6 separate regions of the Homo sapiens genome follow, and regions 1, 2, 4, 5 and 6 are each reported to be linked to region 3. The links are microRNA targets in miRTarBase. Many come from high-throughput screens and were not tested one by one. Region 3 holds a microRNA gene; each other region holds the end of a gene's coding sequence.

The links. Region 3 holds the annotated microRNA hsa-let-7a-5p (UGAGGUAGUAGGUUGUAUAGUU, at 1,630-1,651, opposite strand). A microRNA usually pairs through its seed, bases 2 to 8, with sites in the 3' UTR of a target mRNA and lowers its output. Matches are read on the target gene's strand: a 7mer-m8 pairs with bases 2 to 8, a 7mer-A1 pairs with bases 2 to 7 and ends in A, and an 8mer does both.
Region 1: miRTarBase lists RAD18 as a target of hsa-let-7a-5p. Seed matches in the 3' UTR shown: 7mer-m8 at 3,381-3,387.
Region 2: the mRNA of PHF6 is a reported target of hsa-let-7a-5p. The part of its 3' UTR that is shown has no 7-base or 8-base seed match.
Region 4: the mRNA of TAB2 is a reported target of hsa-let-7a-5p. Seed matches in the 3' UTR shown: 7mer-A1 at 524-530.
Region 5: the mRNA of CCNT2 is a reported target of hsa-let-7a-5p. The part of its 3' UTR that is shown has no 7-base or 8-base seed match.
Region 6: miRTarBase lists CNTRL as a target of hsa-let-7a-5p. Seed matches in the 3' UTR shown: 8mer at 2,735-2,742.

The regions. Positions count from the first base shown.
Region 1 is chr3:8,877,954-8,882,241 of GRCh38, reverse strand. RAD18 (RAD18 E3 ubiquitin protein ligase) reads left to right here. Exons shown (of 13, transcript NM_020165.4): 13 at 783-4,288. The coding sequence ends at 885. Among named protein-coding and RNA genes, the nearest start is that of RAD18, 83 kb to the left of the region's middle.
Region 2 is chrX:134,424,316-134,428,603 of GRCh38, reverse strand. PHF6 (PHD finger protein 6) reads right to left here. Exons shown (of 11, transcript NM_001015877.2): 10 at 3,274-3,403; 11 at 1-2,943. The coding sequence ends at 3,274. Among named protein-coding and RNA genes, the nearest start is that of HPRT1, 34 kb to the left of the region's middle.
Region 3 is chr22:46,110,244-46,114,402 of GRCh38, reverse strand. It overlaps MIRLET7A3 (microRNA let-7a-3), which reads right to left and starts at 1,654; the gene lies at 1,581-1,654. It overlaps LOC124905135 (collagen alpha-1(III) chain-like), which reads right to left. Exons shown (of 2, transcript XM_047441696.1): 2 at 475-4,159. It overlaps MIRLET7BHG (MIRLET7B host gene), which reads right to left. Exons shown (of 5, transcript NR_110479.1): 5 at 475-4,159. MIR4763 (microRNA 4763) reads right to left here and starts at 837; the gene lies at 746-837. It also overlaps MIRLET7B. RefSeq lists an enhancer at 3,093-3,626.
Region 4 is chr6:149,409,356-149,413,436 of GRCh38, forward strand. TAB2 (TGF-beta activated kinase 1 (MAP3K7) binding protein 2) reads left to right here. Exons shown (of 7, transcript NM_001292034.3): 7 at 222-2,252. The coding sequence ends at 364. Among named protein-coding and RNA genes, the nearest start is that of SUMO4, 11 kb to the left of the region's middle.
Region 5 is chr2:134,954,099-134,957,098 of GRCh38, reverse strand. CCNT2 (cyclin T2) reads right to left here. Exons shown (of 9, transcript NM_058241.3): 9 at 1-3,000. The coding sequence ends at 2,451. Among named protein-coding and RNA genes, the nearest start is that of CCNT2, 37 kb to the right of the region's middle.
Region 6 is chr9:121,176,972-121,179,971 of GRCh38, reverse strand. It overlaps CNTRL (centriolin), which reads right to left. Exons shown (of 44, transcript NM_007018.6): 44 at 2,362-2,809. The coding sequence ends at 2,786. It overlaps RAB14 (RAB14, member RAS oncogene family), which reads left to right. Exons shown (of 8, transcript NM_016322.4): 8 at 1-1,839. Among named protein-coding and RNA genes, the nearest start is that of RAB14, 23 kb to the left of the region's middle.

The DNA.
Region 1 (4,288 bases), not on the chromosome of region 3:
TCTTTGCTAGAGCCCCAGGGGGAGTTTCCTGTGTTTCCCTCAGCAACTGAAAAGCTTATGCTTCATGGGAGAGAAGCATTCAGGAGAGCAGGCAGGACTTGACTTCTTCCTGTCCCCCGTAGCCACTGAAGTGGCCCCTCTCCATTCACCTGTCCTGCTCCCAGTCTTTCTTGTGAGCACCTGACGGAGGCTCGTGGAAAAGAGCTGGCAAGTGTGTGCAGACTCTCCTTGTGTCAGGGGCCTGCAATACTAGCCTGTATTTAAGAAATTAGGAAAATCTTAGCTGATTCTTCTTACCTGTTTGTATGGCAGCCACCTCGTTCTCCAACACTCTGCCAAAAGTGAGAGAAGTGTGGCCCATCTTTGGAGGGGCATATTTTTCTTTGGAATTTTACTTTCTTAGTTCCTTTAAAACCTCAGGTCTCTGAAGGATCAAACAGAGTTAAGATTTTGTTAGACTGTCTGGCTTTTTCTTGTTAGGATGGGAGCAGCTTTTTGTTTGCCGTTTTTTCCCAGCCCTCTACATGCTAAACAGAAGCATAAAACTCCTAAATTTTAATTCAGAAAAAGGGGTTCAGAGCTCATTTACTATCTGTGATCTTTGCTAACTCACTAATTCATAAAGTGGAAATACTAATAATAACAATTATGAATTCATCAACAGAATAGAGGATTATTTCGAGGTTTTAATGAAATAATATGTGTGAAAACACTTGTAAACTAGAAACTGCTGTACAATAATCATTACTTTCCAAGATGTCATTTCCTTTTTCTGTCTTCAGAAACGATCTTCAAGACACAGAAATAAGTCCAAGACAGAATCGCCGCACAAGAGCCGCTGAAAGTGCTGAGATTGAACCAAGAAACAAGCGTAATAGGAATTAATGTGGGCTTTTGCTGACTTTTCAAATGCATTGATTAGAATACCGTACTTTTGGTTGCCACAGATAGATTTTCTATTTATAAATGCCCAAGGAAAGATGCTAAATTCTAAATATTACGGTTAGCTGATATTCATTCTTTTCTGCTTTTCCAGAGGGGAAAAATGTTACAAAATATCCTTACTTGGTCAGTTGCCTCCTGCCTCTAAAACATCTCTCTCTAAAAATACTGACATTTCACACAGGTACCAGCTTTGCAGAGGAGGTAGACTCTTTGGCACTTTGGCACAGGGATTTGGTTTGGTTTGGTTTGGTTTGATAATTAAATTTCAGAATGTCCTTAGGCCATTCTCCTTCTCTTCCATGGAGAATCCAGCCTCACAAAAGGATTCTTTCAACTTCTTTATTGCAAGAAACAGTTGAGTTAAATGTTTGTTTTTGGAAAGGCGGGATGTCAGTTCACATCCTTGGTGTGTGTAAGTACCGATGCACGCCACCACCATGCCTGTGTTACAGCAGCTCCATGATGGTTGTTGCCCGAGGTTAATGTAGTTGTTTGTTAGACCTGTGTCTTACACATTTCTCAGAGTAGGATATTAGTATTATAATTTAAAGCTACGACAGTCACAAAGTCACAATAACTTAGAAACATTGCGCATATTCTTCTGAAATAGCACTTAAAAATGATTAGTGTCAGTATTTTTTCACTTGGGTCAATCAAATCTGTAACACTGAATCCAAGCTATTAAACAAAAAGTATGCAATGAATGAATTTTGTAAATGAATAGAGAGTATCAGTTTACAATAATGTTCTTAAAACAGTATCCTCTGGATAGTTGAGTATGGGTTAGAAATCATTGAAATGGATTGGTCAGAAATTGCTATCTGTGTAAAATGTCTACCAGTAGCCAGATGCTTCCAGAGTTCTTAATGCCTCTCTGGCATTTCAGAGCCAGCATCCCCCAACTCCCACCCCTCTGCCATCACCCAACCCAAACACATCAGCTTTCAAATGAGATGATAGTAAATGCGGCAATGTTAAGACAAGAAATTTATGATTTGCCAGATTCAACATTTATGACCTCCCCTTCCAAAGACTGTCTCCGTTGACCTTGTCTTTTTGGTATGCCTTGGGGTTTCTGATAATGTGTGGAGTCTCATTATGGCTGAGAGTTTAGTGTTTTCACAGTGAAGTGCAGACATTTGATTTCTTTATGAGTTCCCTGTGTTAGAAATGGCTATAGAAAAATTTGTCATAATAATTTCATTTGCATGAAATCCTGAGGGGTGCATTAAGGAAACTAAAAGCACCACTTACCAAATCTATCGGCAGAACTGATGTGAGGTAAGTGAGCATGTCAAACAAAATAGGAGCTCACATGGATATATTTATGTCACTGAGTTGTCAGAAATTATGTCAAAATGAAAACTGTTTGTTTCATGACAAATTATATAGTCTATAAATTAAACTGGAAGTAATTATTACTTTAATTGCAGCAAAAGGAGTTTGTGAGGGAGCGGTGAGACCCAAGATTGGGAAAGTAGGCACATGAGTTCATTCAGCAAATATTTGGTTATCTATGTCTGTCACTGTGCTGACACTGGGAATACAAAGGTGGCCAAAGATCATCTAGAACAATGGTTCCCAGTGGGGTGGGCAGAAAGATTTTGCCCCCCAGGAGACAGCTGGCAATGTGTGGAGACACTTTTGGAGGTGGAGGGTGGTGAGGGGTACTACCAGTATCAATGGGTGGAGGCCAGGGATGAGGCTAAACACCCAACCCTCATGGATTAGTTTGCCAGGGCTGCCGTCACAAGATACTGCAGACGGGGAAGCTTACACAACAGAAATGTGTATTCTCAGAATTCTGGAGGCTGGAAGTCCAAGATCAGTAGGGTTTCTTCTTCGGCCTCTCTCCTTGGCTTCCACTCATGGTGTCCTTGCATGGTCTTTTCTCTGTGTGCACATGACTGTGCAGGACTGGTGTCCCGATTTCTTGTAGGGACAGCAGTCATTGGATCAGGGCCCATGCGTATGGCCTCATTTTACTTCAGTTACCTCTTTTTTAGATAGAGGGCCCTATCTCTAAATACTGTCACATTCTGAGATACCGGCAGTTAAGACTTCCAACATATTTAGTGGTAGGGGTTAAGGGGCACGCTTTAGACTACAACACTCCACAGTAAAGAATTATCCAGTCTAACATGTCAGTTGTGCCAAGACTGAGAAACCTGTAATGTAAAGGAACTCCCAAGTCTACCTGAAAAGTAAGGTCTAAAGAGCATTTATTGAGCACTATCTGTTAGCACTTAGCATATGTTTAATATTCATACATTGAAAGAAATGTATGTTCATATCCATCTGACAAAGATTAAGGAACTTAGAGTAAGTAATAGATCCAAAATTGAAACTGATAAACTTCTGGTTCTAAAATTCACCTTTTAGTGAAAATACAGTTTCTCACCAAACTTACAGTAATTCAGAGTTATTAACTCTTTCTACCTCCTCACTCCCCTCAAAGTTATAACATCTCCCATCAACATCAGCTCAGAATGGCAGTGATGCTTATGGTTTGTGGGGGTGCAGGTGAGCTGCTGGATGCACTTTAGATGGCCTAGTATGCCAGGCCGTCCTTTCATCCTCTACTCTCGTCTTTCTTTTTCGACCTCATGTTGAGGATTACTGGTCTAGTTGAAAAAAGAATTCATACACATAAGACCATGTATATAATAGAGGGAGGTATGCCTTTAAAAACAAAATTACATGGTAAAGACTGATGTGTCAACAGGGATAGACAACATAGAGAAGGCTAGAACTGTTTCTGGAAAAAAACCCAAAAACAATGGATTTCAAACTTCTTAGCATCCGATAAAAGAAAGTAGCAATTATTCAAATGAGAAACACTTCTGTCTGTTATGTACATATTATGAAAGTATGAACATAAGAGGGAAAACCACAACCATTACATTTTTTACCATTTCAGTAATTTTTTTTTGGTTTTTAGTCTGTTTTTAGACATCCTTAAGAACAACTATCTGAGGCTGTAAACAAGTATTTACATTAACACCCATGATACTGACTTTATACTCCCTACCTGCATTGAGACCTTAAAGGGGGCATTTCTCCATTCCTTCTGTGTATTTCTGGGTATCCCCAGGTTCAGATATTCAGAATACAGATACAAGTCCATGCTTGCATATGTTGCTGCTCCCCCCGACAGACTTCTACCAGCATCTGCCCTCCTCACCGCTGCTCTGTCACGTGCACTGCGGCTGGCCCTGCTGGAAAGTCCTACCTTGCCTAGGACGCCATCCCCGATATAGCCCCAAGATGCAAACCTGCCAAGTGCTAGGGCAGCCCTGCCTTCCTGTCCATTTCAGTCTCTTGGCCTTGCTGTGTTCCAAGT
Region 2 (4,288 bases), not on the chromosome of region 3:
CTGTTAGAACAAAACTGTATACCTTGGTCTAACTTCAGCGCTTTTTTTAAAAAAGCAACAACACTCTAGAACACTTTTTCTTTTGCTTTGAGATATTTGAGATTCACACATTTGTTCAAGTACACAGATTCTGATTCAATAGCAGATCTACAGATCTTGTTATCTCTTAATATCTTGAGTAGCATGTACTTCTGAGCAAGTACTATCTGAAATTCTAAAACTGCTGATTCTTGAAATAAAATTTACTTCAGTTGTGGGTTTTTAATAACTTGAGATGAAAGTAAAATTCACCCCCTGCCCCCCTCCCCCAGGAACAAAGAGCTCTTCTTAAAAGTATAGAAACTCAAGTCTATCTTTCTACTCTAAAGAACATTTCCTACTAACATTTCTGGTAAGGCAATAAATGCTCCAGAATAATCTTCAATATACGCTTGCAAAGATTACACTGTTTAATATCAATAACAAAAAACAAAACAAAAAAAGAAAAAAGAAAGAAAAAAGACGCTTCAAAATTTCAGGCTAAAATATGCATAAAAGACAGTAACGGCAGTATTTTTTGAAATGATGTAAATGTTATATACTTATCAAATAATGTCATGCTTATTAAAACTACAGTTAAGGACTTAAGAGATGTACAGTAAATACACTGCTGAGGTCCATTTTTCTAAATATTAATACCACAATGTAATTACTACCCAGAAGATGATGATGCTACTTGGGAACATAAGTACTGTACAATTTTTACATTGTAAGGCACTTTTACTCAGCATGTGACGAAAACATGATTAGAGAATCAAAACATTGGAGGTTTACAACCAAACATGATTTTTCATGTGAATTCAATTTACATTTGAATTTTTAATGCGAGATTGTTTAGCCAATCACACCACAGTGAGAAAAACAGGTAGTCAGCCACTTATCTAGCCAACCAAAAGGTAAAGTGCTATTCTGGTTGCTAGTGGCAGAAAAAGGGCTGAAGAAACCCATACAAAGTCATACATTTTACTACATAACAAATTCATCAACTGACAGCTATAGTATTTGAACTCCTTTATATAATTATTGACTGGCCATGATTACCCCCGGCACCTTCCATTTTTCCTAAAAAAAAAATGATTACAGTAGTTGTCCAAAAATGAAGGAGCTCTGTTGTCCCATGGGTAAGTCTATGGCACACAATGTAAAAAATGATCTAGACACAGTGATTTAAGGATTTTAAAATAATGATTTTCAAGCTGTTGTAAGGAAAGAAAGTACAGATCCTTTGGGAGAAGTCACATAGCTTGGTAAACAAACATCTAGATCTGTCCTTGCACTTCAAGTCATGAATTTTGAAAATCACATACACACAAAAACCCAATGGCATATTAAGAGCAAAAAGAGAAAACATACAGGGCAACCCACTACTAAAGCTAGTTTCCTTCTAAAAATAGTAAAAGATGGTTAAAATAAAAGCAAGCATTGAGTCCCTTGATTTAAGTAAATGTGTGAATACACACTTGACAAACGTGATCTTAAGGGACTCGCAGTTTAAAAAAAAATCAGTCATTAAGCACAGTGTAATTTTCCACCTGTTACATTTTTAAAATGCTGCTCTATCAGCTGCAGAATATCTCAATGTACAGTCAAGTTAACATTATTATTTCTTATTTAAAAATCTGCTTTATTGTGGTGGCTTAATAATTCAACTAGTCAAAATCCCTCCCCTTGGTACTGAGGTGCTATGGTAGTATCAGGCAGACCACAACTAAAGTTATTTGGTTTTGCCATAAAGAAATGCATAAATGTGCTTCAGCAGGTAAGTGGAAGAAAATATCACTACCTAGAAATGCCAGTGTGAAAATCCTTTCTAAAAAGCTGGGTTCTTAGGCTTTCAAAAACAATTCTGACAATCGATAAAACACCACCAAGCCCTACAAGAAGAAAAGTAGGGCACAAAAGCCTATTTTATAGATAACCAAAGCAATGACTGAAAACATTAAAATATTAAATAAAGTTTCTAAAATAGTGGTCACAAAAGTAAAAATAAATACTGTTTTATGCAAAGACTTTTTTACTCCTACAGCACATGAGACCTCCTTACGTACTGTGCGCCAATATGTGAAGTGTTCCACACAACAGGGCACTTGAGAGGAACAGGTTTCGGACATGGTGTCTGAAGTCCTTAGCAAGCGGTAACCCTTTCTTTACATCTTAAAAACGTTTAATTTGCTGTTGCCAAATGTTAGTTTAAACTTGAAGGACTCAATCATTTTGCCAGAAGTCCTTTGTATAACATGGAAAGAGAGGAGGTGTGCTGTCAAGAGAATTTTGGCAAAAGCACTGGAGCTCATAGCTTATCATTACCAGTTGCCTGAGTCCATGCTGGTCAGTGAGAACAACTTTAACAGGAACCAAATGAAAAGCTTTAGCATACTTCTTGGAAGAGATTTTTAGCATGTGCTGTCAAAGTCAAGAGAAAAAGAAGGTTCTCTTCATTTCTAGCCTCCATTACTTGAGTATGAAAAAAAAATCCACAAATTACCATGTGCTGCCACCAGTGGCATGTTTGCATTGTAAAGGAAAATTTGCTTATGCTTTCCTTTGAGTATGGATCCACTAAACAAACTTAAATGCTCTAAACAGCAGAGCTTTGTTCAGTCCAGAAATATAGCTTACTTCGTTTCGTCTGCTTTAACTGTTGACACTATACACAGGGTTAATAGTGTTTCAATTGCTTCCCAGAAACTGCAAACTATAGCTACGTAATATCAACATGTCAAACTCAGCCTTCTAGTGAGGGCTCATAAAACAAACAAGACATTTTTAGGCAGTTCAATGAAGGATCTAAGAGTTGGGCAGTAAAAAGTTACAAACCCTTTTTGATTTTAGAAAACAGTGAAAAAAGAATAGTAGTTATGGATGTCTTATTCATTCCCAGTTTTCTAACTCTGTCCCATGAACCTGTTTAAAAGATGATAAAAAAATGTAAAATATGATGCTTGAGGGGAACACAATCAATATAATGTTATTGAGGAGTGTGAATATCTTATTGATTTGACATTACAACTACACTTATTGATAAAGCAGATAGCTTGTTTTTATGGTTACAAAATCAGCTAGTTAAAAAACAACTACTATGCAAGCCTACAAAATCCTCAGCATTTTAGTAACATGCTCTTAACTAAACATAATAGGATTAAAAAAAATCTTACTGCATACCATTACTTCAACATGTATATATCAGTGTGTATTGTATCCTGACAACAGATCCCATATAATTAACTTTCATACCTAGTTTCCATTAAGTTGCTGCTGAGTTAGTTGTTGCTGATCAATTTCTACTTTTCCTCGGCTTTTACTCTCTCGTTCCTCATCTTCTTCATCTCTCTCATCATTTCCACTATGATTTTTACAGTATAGTCTACAATGATGAAAGACAAAAATCTCAAAATGCTTTGTCACTGCTGATGAACATTCCTGCCAACATTAGTGGATGAGGCTAGTGCCCATTTAAAACATGGGTTTCCTCATCCACACTTTAAAAAATACTCCCCAATTAGTTACAGACCCATTTTTATCTAACAGATAGGAAAACACACTATTATTGAGATAATAAAAGTTCATCTGAAACAAAATCTCTGGTTTAGGATGACAGTTATCATAAGGCAATTCCTCATTTTGCCCAATGAGATTAAAAGCAAAGTTTTGGCCAACTTAAAAATACCAACCTTCAGGTATATTGATGAAATAATCAAATTCTATAAATTTGTTTCATATATTTAATTTAAAATCACATTTCAGGAAATATATATTCTATCTATACTGCTGCCTTCTGCTCACATTTGATGAAACAATTTTACTCAAACTCTTCAAATGGTTTTTCATTATTAGCATCCTAGCCTTCACTGGAATACCTACATGAGCCATCCAACAGTTTTCCGGCACTGCATTTGGCTATGTCTCTTTTAATCTAGACTGGTCCTTCCAACTTCTTGTTTTTACACAACACTGACTTTTTAGGATGAGATTAGACCAGACAGTCTGTCAACTGTAGCAAATTCTGGACTTGTCTAATTGTGGTACTGTTTTATTTGGTTCTCTCTCGCCCTGTATTTCCTATACACTGGGAATAAGGTCTAAAGGCTTGGTTAGCTTCAGGTTCAGCTTTTCTTTTTCAGTCAAGACACTCTGTAGGTAATCCTGCATATTTCAGGAGGCATCTAATTTCAAAATGTCCTGCTACTGGGTGACACTATGTTTGATCATTTGGTTAAAGTAGTGGTGATGACCAGCTATCTCCATTGTA
Region 3 (4,159 bases):
GAGGCCTCCCAGGAGAATGGGTGCACTTTTGGGATGGCAGTCTGTCAGAGGAATTACGGGTGCCCTGGAAACTGTCCTGAGGGAGGACGGAAGGACAGGCACGTCCAGACTTTGGTCAAGGCACTTAAGGCACGGAGGTGGCCTCAGGAGCCAGGACTTGGCAGTGCTCTGAGCTGCTGACCTGGGGCCTTGGTGGCTGCCCCGTGGGGACCTCTCCACCGGGCCTGGGTCCCGGTGTTCAGCCCGCCTGGCTCAAAGGCAGCACGAGAGGGCAGAGAACGGGCTGGGCCTGGGATCCTGAGCCCAGGGTACAGCACGGAGCCAACTGAGGACTCTGGAGGCACCGGGAGGCGTGAGCAGACAAGTCTCATGACCTGGAACAGCTCGTGGCCAGGGGCCTCCACACTGTCCCGCAGCAGACGCGCCCCAGAGCCCAGTCCCTGGGCTTCCAGAATGAAAGGGGCCAGTTCCAAGTTCATGGTCAGAACAGCTTTATTGAATCTAGCTCCCAGATGCCCACCCAGCTTCGGCTCAGGCCCCCTGCAGGTCACTGAGGTGGGGGGCAGCCCTCCCGTGGGGTCGTGTCACTGAGGTAGGGGGCGGCCCTCCCATGGGGTCGTGTCACTGGGCTCCTCAGGGAAGGCAGTAGGTTGTATAGTTATCTTCCGAGGGGCAACATCACTGCCCTGAAACCACACAACCTACTACCTCACCCCGCCAGGCCCGGCCTTGCACTGCGGGAGGGCCCGCCGCCCCCCGCCCAGCACCAGCCCCTGCCTGGCGGTCCTCAGTCACCAGAGCAGGAGGGCTGGGCAGGCGCAGGGCAGGAGGGACAGGGGAGATGGCACCCCAGGAAGGGGCAGCTGCTGCTGGCTGGTCTTGGGAAGTCCCTGGCTCTCTGGGCCTCAGTTTCCCCAGGTACAGAGGAGCCACTGTCTGCCTTCAGATTGTGCCATGTGGGACCCAGTGTATGCAGAGCTGTTCCTCTCACTTCCTGCTCAGGAAAGGTGCCTTGGCCTCCCTTCCTCCACAGGCAGAGGCCCTGCCACTGAGCTGGCCAGGCTGGGGCACGTGCTGGGAACCTGGGGTGATGGGCAACGCCAATACTCGCAGCCCTGTGACCTCCAAACGTCTCGGCCACCCCTGGCCCCACGGTGCCTTCTCCTGGTGCTCAGTGGAGGGTACGGCTCAGGGCCACCCATGAGCCTGGGCCTGATGGCGGGGGGAGTGTTGGGGAGTGTTGGGAGACAGAGGTCAGACAAACAGCTGCGTGGATCGCCTCTCTCAGTGCGGCTGGGGCAGAGGGTGGGGTCGGCTCAGCTCTCCTCTGCCCTCGATGCTCCACACTGCATCTCCTTCCATCCTCATTTGCCTCCATTTTACAGAGGAGGAAACTGAGACCCAGAGAGATCAGGGGCCTGTCCAAGGTCACACAGCAAGTGGCACCTAGGCCTGTCAGACTTCTCAGTGTAGGCGGCCCCTGCCCCCGACTGCTGCCAAGGCTGCCCCCAAACCTGGCCCTGCCCGCTCCCAGCCAGGGTTCCAGACGCTCTGTCCACCGCAGATATTACAGCCACTTCAGGAAAGACAGTAGATTGTATAGTTATCCCATAGCAGGGCAGAGCCCCAAACTATACAACCTACTACCTCACCCCAAAGGGCAGTCGGTCTTGGTGCCGATGGGACTCCGTGGCTTCCAGAGGCACCTCCTGGGGACGCGGGAGGAAAGAGGGCTGAGGAGAACAGGGGCTCGAGGCTCGGCAGGCCACACGCACCAAGGGCACAGGGATTCTGGCGGGCAGGCGCGGTGGGCGCAGGGGGCTGGGACGCCGAAACCCTGGGAGTGGGGACATTGTGGCCAGCACCAGCAGGGACGGGAGCCTGCAGGAAACCACCAACCAGAGAGGGACGAGGAAGAGAGAAAGGAGGAGGGAGGGAAAGCCCTGGCGGCATTTTGCGACGCTGTCACAGGCAGCCGGCTCCCTCTCATCTGGACAGGAGTGGCCATAATGTCCCCAAGGAACTCTGCACTGGAGACCCTAGGAGGAGGGCTGTCATCTGTCGAAGGCCAGCAAGACACAGGCATGCGAGTGCCCACCCTGCTCGGCCCCCTCCCTCCCCGCACAGCGCCACCAGAAGCAGCACTCGTGGCCCCCAGGCTGGCTGAGTAGCGGCTTCACGGGCGTGCCGTCTCCTCCCACTGGGCAGGCAGGCATCCCTCCCCAGGGGCCCTGGTTCTGGCCCTGCTGTGCAGGCTGGCCTGAGCTGACCGCACTGCAGGAGGTGGCGGGAAGGTTCTTTCCTTCCTTGAGGGAAGTGGCCTCTAGGGGAGAGCAGCTGGGGGGGTAGTCACAGACCCTCAGGTCCACCCAGGGTCCAGTGCCTGTCCCTGCGGGTGCTGGCACACTCAGTGCCCTAGCTTGGGACGCACAGGGCTGGGACAGAGTGTAGCATGAGGATGACACTGAGAGGGCCTCGGGGCTCCCCTAGCAGGGGAACGTGGCGAGAGACGGGCCTCCCTAAGCCCCGCCTATCCTGGGCCTGGTGCAGGGTCAGCCTCAACAAATGCTAATTGTGGCTACCACCTTCCTGGGGAAAAGCTGAGGGGGCAGATACGACTGTCAACCCCTCTTAAACAGGTGAGGAGACCGAGGCCCAGAGAGGCAACGTGACCTGGATGTCACACAGCCAAGGGGGCAGCAGAGTGAGGTCCAAATGTCCTGCTCCCTGCCAAGCTTTTTTTTTTTTTTTTTTTTTTTTTTTTGAGATGGAGTCTCACTCTGTCCCCCAGGCTGGAGTGCAGTGGCGCGATCTCGGCTCACTGCAAGCTCCGCCTCCTGGGTTCACGCCATTCTCCTGCCTCAGCCTCCCGAGTAGCTGGGACTACAGGCGCCCGCCACTACGCCCGGCTGATTTTTTGTATTTTTAGTAGACAGGGGGTTTCACCGTGTTAGCCAGGATGGTGTTGATCTCCTGACCTCGTGATCCGCCCGCCTCAGCCTCCCAAAGTGCTGGGATTACAGGCATGAGCCACTGCGCCCGGCCTGCTTCCTGCCAAGTTAAACGGCATGCTAGCTCTCAGCTCCCCATGCCCAAGTGGACTTGAAAGGTCTACCCCAGCCCTCCTTCCACAGCCCATCCTGAGCAGGCTGCCTACTCCAGGCAGGCCCCAGGCTGGGCTGGACCATTTAATCCTCACAGCCCTGGTAAGGCTGAGATCACGGATCCCACTTCATAGTGGAGAAACTGAGGCTCAGGGGGTGCTGAATCTCTAGCTCTAGGTGTCTTTGCTCTCAGAAGTTGGTCGGGGAGGGGGTCTGCTTGCTCTCTGGGCACGTGTCCTACTCCCTCCCGAGGGGCACTGGAGCAAATCCCAGGTCCTTAGCCAGCAAGGAGACCGCTGAGGCTCACACCTGGTGCCGCCCACCCAGAACTGGAGACTGAGATGCTGACTCACCCAGGAGTGGGGACCAGGAGGGCCCCGATGCAGCCCGACCCTCCTCTGTCCCAGCATCATCTCGCCTGGGGTCGCGAAGACCCCGTGTTCCCTCAAGGCCTCAGAACAAAAGCGGTATGAGAGGGTCTGGGGGTCCTGCTCCCCTGCTCCAATTCTGGGTCCCCTGGCTGGTGGGCAGGACCAAGATGTCCCTAAGGACTGTCCGGGCAGAGCCAGCCAGGGTGGGGTGAGGGCTGAAGGGACAGTGGCTGAGGGTCTCCTTGGACCCTCCCAGCTGTGGTGAGTGGCCGGAGGGGGAAGATCAAGGCCATCCCAGCTCCTCTGAGCTGAGGCTGACTCAGGCTGTCGCACACCTCATGATCAGCTCCCAGTCAGGTGGTCCACCCTGAGTGTCCCTGCGTCTGCCCCCATCTGCACCCCCGGGAGGTGCCTTGGGGGAGGCTGTGGGGTGGGTTGCACCCTAAGCACGCACTCTGGGCTCCTGACTTAATCTCTGAGACCCCCACCCCCTCAGGCTGGACTGGCCACCTGGGCTGGCTGGGTCCCCTCACACCTACTGGGTTCTGACTCATGGTCCCAGCAGGCTAAAAAGGGGGTGGGGCAGGACAGCCCAGTGGGCGGAGCTGTGAGAATCCAGGCCGGCCTCTGGGCTATGCTCTGGGCAGGTCTCATGCCCTCGTGAGCCGTGGTCTCCCCACTGAG
Region 4 (4,081 bases), not on the chromosome of region 3:
GGAGGTGATTACATCATGTTCATGTTGTATTTCCCAGAGGGAGAAGTGCCAACTAGATAGAGGTTGGTAGTGATCGAGCATGTGTGTCAGTGTCAGCTAGATGCCCCATTTGGGGAGCAAGCTGCATCAGGCTGTGCACTACAAATGGTGTTTAAAGTTGCCTGTAATTTTTTAGACTTTGTGATTTTTTACTTATAAAATAATTTTTTTCTTTCTTACAGATCAAAGGTCCATCATCAAAACACCAAAGACTCAAGACACAGAAGATGATGAGGGAGCTCAGTGGAATTGTACCGCCTGTACTTTTTTGAACCATCCAGCCTTAATTCGCTGTGAACAGTGTGAGATGCCAAGGCATTTCTGAGCCAAATGGCCCTGTATCTTCTCTAAAACCACATCTAAAGTTCAAGAAACTAGTCTGTCATCGGGAAAAAGTTTCACTGCTACATAGGATTTTGTCAAATTGAAGGTGTGACAAGATGGTGTTCTGCTAATGTTAAATGTCAGCCCACAGAGCTAATAATACCTCAGTATAATGTCATGAGCAGTTGAAATTCATCACATGAAAAGTAATCTGCTGAAAGACTTGGTTGCCCACTGCCTAACTGTGTACAGTGTTACCAGTGTCCCATTATGGATAATTCTCAATATGTTAACACCTAGGTGTTCCCAATACCTTTTTCCCCTCATGTCACTACTGAATTTTGACAGGAGGAAGGAATAGAATGATAGCTTGTTTTATTTGTAAAGCTTTCAGTGAAACACTACATACACGAAGAAAAGGAACAAGGTTTAACTATTTAAGAACCATTTGCTGCCGCATAGTGCCATTGGATAGGGAAGAACTTCAGAAATCTGTGGTACTCTTGGCCTTGTCTTTGTCTTCCCTGAACGTGTCTCCACTCTGTGAAGCCAGCATCTAGGGGCTAAAGATGCAAAGGAAAGCAGCATGCATTGTCTGTACAAATGTGCAGCGAAATACCCCAAAGCTTTTCCTACTGTACAGATCTCTCGAGTCTGCTTTAAGTGATTTCTTTTCTTCTTGATTATTTTCTTATATTTCTATATGTATAGTGTAATAGCCTTTTGTTAACTAATTTTCTTTTTTCCTTTTAGTAATTAAGCACGATCATGTCCCTTTTTAAGCCTTACCTGAGAGGAACAATGCCTTAAAATAAAAAAGCATTAATGAGATGAAAGTATGCACAGAATAACTTTCCTCTACTTATTCTGTACTTTGCCCTCATGAGTTCCAATGTTGTGTGAAGACAGGCAGATGCTGCACAGTGAATTGCAGATGATATTACAGAAGTGATGTCTGTAGGTCACATTAAATACTGACTTGAGCAGTGGGTGACACAACACAGTGTTTGTCTTCCACAGGGAAGCTTAAAACAAAAGATATTTTTAACCCACTGACAGAACAACAAGGTTAAGCTTCATCTGCTTGGTGTCCCACAGAACTTGCACAAGCAGTTGTTATTGGGAAAGTACAGTCTCAAAACCAGCAACAGCAGCAGTACCTACAGCCCTTTTTTTGGAGAGAAGTTTAAATGCTTTACTGTTGGGGCAGTCCATTTCTAATCCTGACTTGGTGACAGTATCATGTGTATTTATAAAACAAGGCTAGCCATATTTAGGACAACTGAAGAAAAGCTGGAAAAAAAAACAAGCAAACTTGAACACTGAAGCAACCTCAAGCATCTCTTTATTTTGATGATATATTTTTGTAAGGAAAATATTCAGATGATCAGGAATGTATATAACTGAAATCAAGAAAAAGAACAGTATGCATTTAAAAAGACAGAATTATGAAATTATATGAGTGCTTAGAATGGGGCTAAGGGAAGTGCTGAAATAGAGCAAAGGATGGAAGATAATATAGACTACCACCCACTGTAAATGTTTGCAAGTGGCTGTGTTTTAAATGGGATTATTACAGTTGATCTCTATGAATGTCAGAGCCCTAACTTTCAGGCTTTGCATTTTGTATATGGGAAGAAATATGACAATCCTAGGTAATTAAACCATAGACCCAAAGCCCTTACGTTTGATGCAATTTATTTTTAAAATAGGCCTTGTTTTTCAGCTTCATCTGCAGTTCTATGTGAAGATTGATAAATCAGTTTTTACTTGTTTTATTAATAAAACGTAATTTGGATATCTTGAGTTGATGGTTTTGTGATTTAGCTGGGTAAACTATCTTTGTAACAGATAAGTTATTTATAAAAATTAAAAAACTTATATTCTAATGTGGATTTTGTGACTTGTTTTCAGTTTGTGGGACAGGAGATAATTTATACATCAGCAGATCATTTAAGCATTAATGGAAATCAGGGAAAACTTCTTCTCTAGAGTCTCCTTGTGACATTGTGATACTCAGCTGCATTTCTTGGACTGTTTTTATCAATTTCCCTAGACTTCTTTTTTCATAGTTTATGATAGTTTTCCCTTTTATTTCCTTTGGATTTTTCAAAATTTACCGCATTGTTAAAGACAAATGTGATTTATTGGACCATTTAACCTGAAGTAAACATTTAGTTAATATTTGTTCTGTCCCTTGATGTGTAATGCAGGTCATGAGGATGGTGGTGCTTCTCTTGAAGAGAACTTTTATATTTACAGTTTTCAAAAAATTACAAAAACTCAGGTGTTTTTCTCAGCCTGAAAAGAACAAAGTAGTATTTGCTGATCTCCCCATGATGCAGTTGTAGAAAGGTCTGCCTTGAGTGGTCTTTTAAACTTAGTAGAAAGGAAATACTCAATGCCAGTGAATATGAGGACTGGACATGTTGGGCATCTGGAGACCACTTTTGGGAACTTCATTGCCCTAAAACAGAATTACAAGTGTAAGAACCTCCAATCGAAAGATGGACTTCGAAGTATTTTTTTGACACAAATTATCCTTCATCTGTATGTTTAAAGGGGTTTGGGGGTAGAGGAATTGGCAGTTCATGTAAACTAGACTTCTCAGGAAAATTTTTATATTAACAAATTGTCAGCCAAATGTCTCCTGTGACAACTAATACGTTAGACAAAGATGTGTGTTATATTGCAGGCGTTTGAGGGAAAAAAGTTGAAATTTTATTTTTCTTTTAAAATCTTGTTTAACCTGTGTCATCTTTGATCTAATATTAATTAACTTTATATTGGGGAAATTATGCAGAAAATCAGCTCCATGGGTAGTCCAAAACTAATTGTTAGCTTTAAACCTACTTAATCAAAGCAGCTATAAATAGCAAAACTAGCTGACGTGTCACCAGTTTTCTCTATCCCAATGTAATGTTGACAGGCAATTCTAGTGAGCAGGGATAGATTTAAGAGGTAAACAGTATAAGATAAAATATTCAGACTGGGCACAGTGGCTCACACCTGTAATCCCAGCACTTTGGGAGGCCAAGGTGGGTGGATCACTTGAGGCCAGGAGTTTGAGACCAGCCTGGCCAACATGGGGAAACCCCATCTACTAAAAATACAAAAATTAGCCGGGCGTGGCAGCACATGCCTGTAGTCCCAGATCCTCTGGAGGCTGAGCCATGAGAATCACTTGAATTCAGGAGGTATAGGTTGCAGTGAGCCAAGATCGCACCACTGCACTCCAGCCTGGGCAACAGAGCACGACTCTGTCTCAAAAAAATAAAATAAAATAAAATAAAATATTCAGCCCATGAGTAATGGAAGTAGGCCATATTGCCGTAGAAAATAATGTAGTGACACTAGAGACTACTCCAGATTTAATATCTATATGCTGGATATCGGCATAGCTTCCCATATAACATCACAAAGTACTTCTATTCCTGTATGGCAAATGAATATATTTTTGGCTTCAGCTTTTTTGGTGCTACAATTTTATATCCATTTTACTTGAAATGGCTCAGCTGCATTTTAATTTGTATTGCTTCCATCTGAAAATACAATTAGACAACTGAGAGAAAAGGCCTAAGAAAACAATTTTGTAGTGAGTTTTTGTATTTGTTATGACCTCTCAACTTTATTATTTATTTATTTATTTATTTATTTTTTGTGGTGTGTGTGTGTGTGACACAGAGTCTCACTCTATCACCCAGGCTGTAGTCCAGTG
Region 5 (3,000 bases), not on the chromosome of region 3:
CCATATTTATCCCCATCATTATTTTGGAAGCTTAATACCCTGTTCAGGGGTTGAAGAGTTTGAATAGCTCACACAATCCTGTAAAAATGACAACTGGCTGCCCTTTAATAAATAAAGTCATTGTAAAGAATTACATTTACAGAGTGAAAAGTGAATACATAGCATTTCAAATTCAATTTTGGAAGTACTAATAAGTACTGACCCATAACAATATACACTAGCTATCTTTTTAACTGTCCATCATTAGCACCAATGAAGATTCAATAAAATTACCTTTATTCACACATCTCAAAACAATTCTGCAAATTCTTAGTGAAGTTTAACTATAGTCACAGACCTTAAATATTCACATTGTTTTCTATGTCTACTGAAAATAAGTTCACTACTTTTCTGGATATTCTTTACAAAATCTTATTAAAATTCCTGGTATTATCACCCCCAATTATACAGTAGCACAACCACCTTATGTAGTTTTTACATGATAGCTCTGTAGAGGTTTCACATCTAAATTACCAAGAAAGCCCTTCCCTCCCTCATCTTGCACTCAGCTTAATTCTATACTAGTCCTTGGATTATGTACCACTGTAAAAGTATAACTGTATCAAAATTACCATGTTTATGGATACAATATTATGCCATACAGAGCAACAAAGTTACATATAATGACAAAGATTACTGAAGTTATGCAAGACCAGAACAAATGTTAGGACATGCTACCTAGGCACAGTCCCTACAAAGAGGCTCCTAAGTACCCCAAGTTCAAATAACATTGACAAAATAATGAACAATTATCTTTAAAAATTATAAAGCTACTGGCAAATTAGGTAATTGCTAAATAAAGGTAGAGCATGAGATTAAACTCTAATATTTACAACTGCAACATACTTAATTACAATTGTGCACGTATCAGTGGCTTTGTAACAAAAATACAGAGAAAAAATTAAGTTTTCAGTTCAACAAGAGGTCGAATCCAATCAATCTCAAATATACTCAACAACTCAAAAGATTTACCACAGAATAAATTCAAGATTAGCTGATAAACAAGAGCCATATTACTGGTGTTTAAGACAAAATCTAAACAAGTTAAAATCTAATGCTTGATCAGAAGTCAGATGACTGTGCAAACTTTACCTCAACAGAAATATACTGAGATGTGCAAACAAATGTAAAACCTCCACTACTGGTTTGCCTGGGAGGCTGACCTTTTCTTTCTTACAGAGCTTCCTGATAACCATAAACTATAAATACAGGTACAATGCACAGTCAGTAATCTTTTCTTTTTTATTTATTGTTAGAATATAAAAGAATTGAGAGCATAGGTTTAATTTCATTTTTATAAGGAAGACTACATTTACCTGAAAAAGAAATATGGCATCACACACAAACACGCTTCAGGGAAGGAGTATATTTAAGAATATGGTGTCATTCTGAATGCTAAAGGAAAAGTGATCCCTGTTTACTATTAAAATATGTAGTGTAAAATTCTTTAAAGGAAACAACTCACTAAATCTCTACTAGGTAAGTTATTGTGAATTTAGTTTTCAAATCACAGTAATCCACATAACCATTATTAACAGCTCTGTTTCATAGAACTGCAACAAGCCAACAAACATTTAAATGCACTTCACATCAAGAGTATGTAAACTTTATTTTTTCCTCTTCAAGCCTTCAGAAAGTTAGGGGCTATTTCAGCAGCCAATCTGGTCAGAACCTCTGAAGGCAAAATTTCAGTGCCTCACAGTGTATATGACCATCTGTTGCACTGCACACATCTGGTAGTGAAGTGTCCCCTATCAGTGGCTTCCAGTAAGGCCTAGAGTTTAAGGTTAACATAAAAAAGTGCCACCTTTGTTTTAGATTAGTGATGGACTCTGACAAGATAAAATAAAGTTATTCTGTATATTGTTATACTTACAAGCAGCTCCAATCCTGAGTATTTACGGTAATATCTAAACATACAAAAATGTATGTACATTTTTCTCCACTTTCTTGTAAACAGTTGTCAGTATACTGTTTTATCCCTTTATCATTGAAACATGCAAATCATACATACAAGTATAAATACACAAAAGAAAACAATTTACACTCATTCAAAAGCCAAGCAACAAAAAATAGCTACAGTATTCAAATCATAAATAATGAATGCTTGAGGCATCTTATATTCCTAGAAGCAGCCAGCCATTCATCCTAATGTTCTTAGCTGCAATTGTAGAAATACTGAGTTTTGCACCTTCCATGCTTTTACAGTATTTATAACACTATCATATGTGGAGATAAAGACTTGTTTACTATAATCTCTTCTTTTCAGAATGAAGAATAAAGCAGCACTTACAAATATTGAAGCAGTGGCAGCAACAGCAGGGGTTACCACTGCTAGATCAGAAGGAATTTTTCCATTCTAACAATTTTTAAATTAAAAAAGTAAAGGAAAAATTGACCTAAACAAATTATTACATGTTCATTCCTTGGGCACTTAACAGTGAGTCCAGCATGTCGAATGTGTCTTTGTAGTCCATATGCTGGCTGCTTGTACTGTACTCGTGATTGGCATCAGGACCGTTGGTCTCCACTGGCTTCTTGTCCAGTTTCACGAGGGTGCTGAGATGTCCGTAGCCCACCTGGTATGTGACAGGGGGAGGAGGGGGTAAGGGATGGTTAAAAACAGAGTTGTGAGAGGATATATACTGCTTAACAGAGGAGGAAGAACTAGATGAACTACCTGAACTTTTGGAACTTTTGCTCATTTTGGAGTGGTGGTTGTGAGATGCATCATTGACATGCAGCCTCTTCCTTGAAGAGCTGGAGCTAGAGGAAATGCCATCACTGCTCAGGCCAACAGGACTCCTCAGAACAGTGGGTGGTATTCCGTCGGCACTGTGTTTACTGCCACCGCTGCTGCTGCCACTATGCGAGTGGGAATGCTTGTGGCTGCTGGTGTGGTGGCGGCTTGAAGGATGCTCCTTGTGCTTCTCCTTATGGTCTCTGCTAATATGTGGGCTT
Region 6 (3,000 bases), not on the chromosome of region 3:
AAGTTCTTCATTTCTGTTGATTTTTTTTATTGCATTTATGATTCAGTGGCTGGGAATTGAGAATTTATTTGAAATAGAATAGGTAACACCTCAGCGTACTATAGAAAATGCACTCAGCTCAACTGCTGTGTTTAAAATACACATTTTAAATCCCTCTTTACAGACACTAACATAAAAGTACATCTTTCTGGGTTGTAAACATGTGGTAGTACCAGAGTATTGTATAGTCAATGTTAAATAAAAGCCAAAACTGGAATGTGCAGAAAGTAGGCTTTGGTTAATTTGTGGATTCATTTTTATTTTTGTCTTTGTTTAACTTTTTAAAAAATAAGATTTCTGGAGTAGATTGGTATATTCTGTTAAAGACTTACAGTGATCCATTTTGCTTACACTGTTGCATCACAAGGGACTCACCCAGGGACCATGACCTGCTGGTGTGTGTGTATATTTACAAAAACAAAACAAACAAACCACCCATTGGGATATAAGGTAGCAATCACAAACTAAAGACTGCGGCTTGTTGAGGTGCAATACCCTGACTCCCAAAGTTAGTTACAGTGGGTTTTATTGTTTTTGTGACTGAAGGATTTATTCAGACTGCTGTACTCTTCATTTGATGTAACAAAATGCTATTAATCTAAATATTTGTAAATAAAGTACCTGTATCTAGATTAAATTAAAATTGGTTGCATTATTTTCTGAACTATAATAGGGTTTTTCTTCAGGTGAACAATTTGACGTGTCATCAGTTTTTATTGCAGCACTGTCCATATTCATTGTATAAAGAGAGGTCTACGTATGTAGCATATAAAACCACATCACTAAGTAATAGACCCACAGCTTTATTCTTGTGTTTACATTACCCTTGAAATGTTTTCAGTCAACCCTTTTCAGTGTAAGATCAGCACATTTGGTGGCTGATGCTGTTCTCCTTTGACTGTACCGGGAGCCAGATTCTATCATATGCATGTGTAATCCCCTGTAATACACTCAGGTGCTCACAAATAGAGCAGATTGTCATATTGTAACATGCGTGTGCCAGACACCGGGCAGTACACTTTGGAAAGAATGTGAAATCCTTTTAATTTTTAATCCATAGCTTACTGCTTGTGCAGTCACCTGCCTCTTGAGGTTGCTCATTGCCCTTGGACCTGTGAGGAGGCCTTCAGATTAGTAATTGGTGCTTAGTACTATTTATGCTTAAATAGATCTTCCAGTACAATGTTGAAGTCTTTTTTATGGATAATAACGTGTTTGATGGAGTAACTTATTATTTTTTTTTGGTTGGTGGTTTACACGTTAATAGAGGTAGTACAATTTCTTTGGAAAGGTGTCTTTTGAAGCCAGCTGTTAAGCTTCATACATTACCTCCCTTCTCAAATTCGGTAAGACAGTAGTTTTGGGGAACTTTTTTGCCCATGTGTCTTTTAAGTGTGATTTTAAAAAAATGAGTGGTTCAGTTCATTCCCCTAAACAGAAGAAAAGACCAAATAATTACCTTCCATTCCTCTTCATGTGGGAATATAGAGAGGGTTCATGTGGCATTTTAGAGAAAAGATAATTTATCCTCATTCAACACAGGCCCAGAAAATTGTGTCCCAGAAGGATGTCAGTAATTGTGACTAGGCCAGGCCTTTTAGCATTTTGCTAAGACTTGAAACAAAAAATGTAAATACAAAAGAAATCAAGTTTTGTTTTGAAAGATGCCTTCTAGAACTTACTGTGTATTAATAAATTGTCACTTTCATTGTCTTTATTGTAACTCCATTGATCCCGTATCTTAACGGTTCACGTCTAGCCAAATAACTGTTTTGGAATAAAAACCTTGGTGGTGAGGGATGACTGCACTGTGCTGCTCTGTATTATTAGTAACAGGGTAACATACCTGTTGTGACTCAAAAGCTGTCTAGTAGTGATCTAGAAAAGAGTTCCCGAGAATATTTTAAAACTTCTTATTACATATTTCCCCCTTGGGAATAATTATGCCAGACTGTGAGAGCAGTTGCTATTCTAGTTTTTAAAGAAATGTATACATCATGGAGTTGAGCTGTTAATTATGGTAGTTCAAAATCTGAAAGGCAACACAATTTGAATTTATCACTGGGTCACATTCTCCAAGGTACAAAGTTTTCCTGATTTTCCACCAAAGAATATGTTGGCTAAGGAAAGGCATCTGAAGCATAATAGTTTTATAATTGATGTATTTCCAAATGATGAAATCTTCATTGATAAGTATAATGTACTTCAGCCTCCAGGTAAAAGAAAACCACCTGAAAGATTACTTACTTGGAATAAGGTAAAAATTTGACGGCTTTTCCATAGAATGACCTGTGAAGTGTAAAGTCAGAGGACAGACCCAAGTTGATTGTTATCTTTTATTTTCATATGAAAAATAGATTTTAAGCAAAATTCAAAAATAACTCGACACTATAAATAAAGAGGGCCTTAAGTACATTCTTTTTGTTAATAAGATTTACCAGTTTGTAGGTTCAAATATGCAGTTAAAATCACTGTTTTTTTTTAAACATGTTACGAAGATTAAAAAAAAAAAGGCTCAGCCACATGTTGGTTTAAATTCCCATATGCAACTATTCCCATATGTACTATGTACAAGTGATTTATAAAAACATTGGCATTAATGGTACAGGCAAAGTAAACTACAGTGGAGTTTCAGAATCTCAGTTCACTGCATCTTGATTAAAAAAACCATGTGACATTCCAATTATGAAGTCAGTGAGGTAGTGGAGGTGTTTTCCTTGAATATATTTACACAAGACAGTATTCCTCATCTGGCTGAGGCATTCTTTTCCTACAGTAAGACAAAAGGAAGGATAAATCAAATTCTTGAAACAGTAAAAACAGTCTTAACTAAGTGATGGCATGATGGCTTATAGGTAAATGACATATTTGAGTACCTCTTTGGAAAAATGTTTTAAGATGAACCAGTGTACAAAATTCTGAGAGAAAAAATTAAACGGTTATTCTTAAAACTGCTAAAAT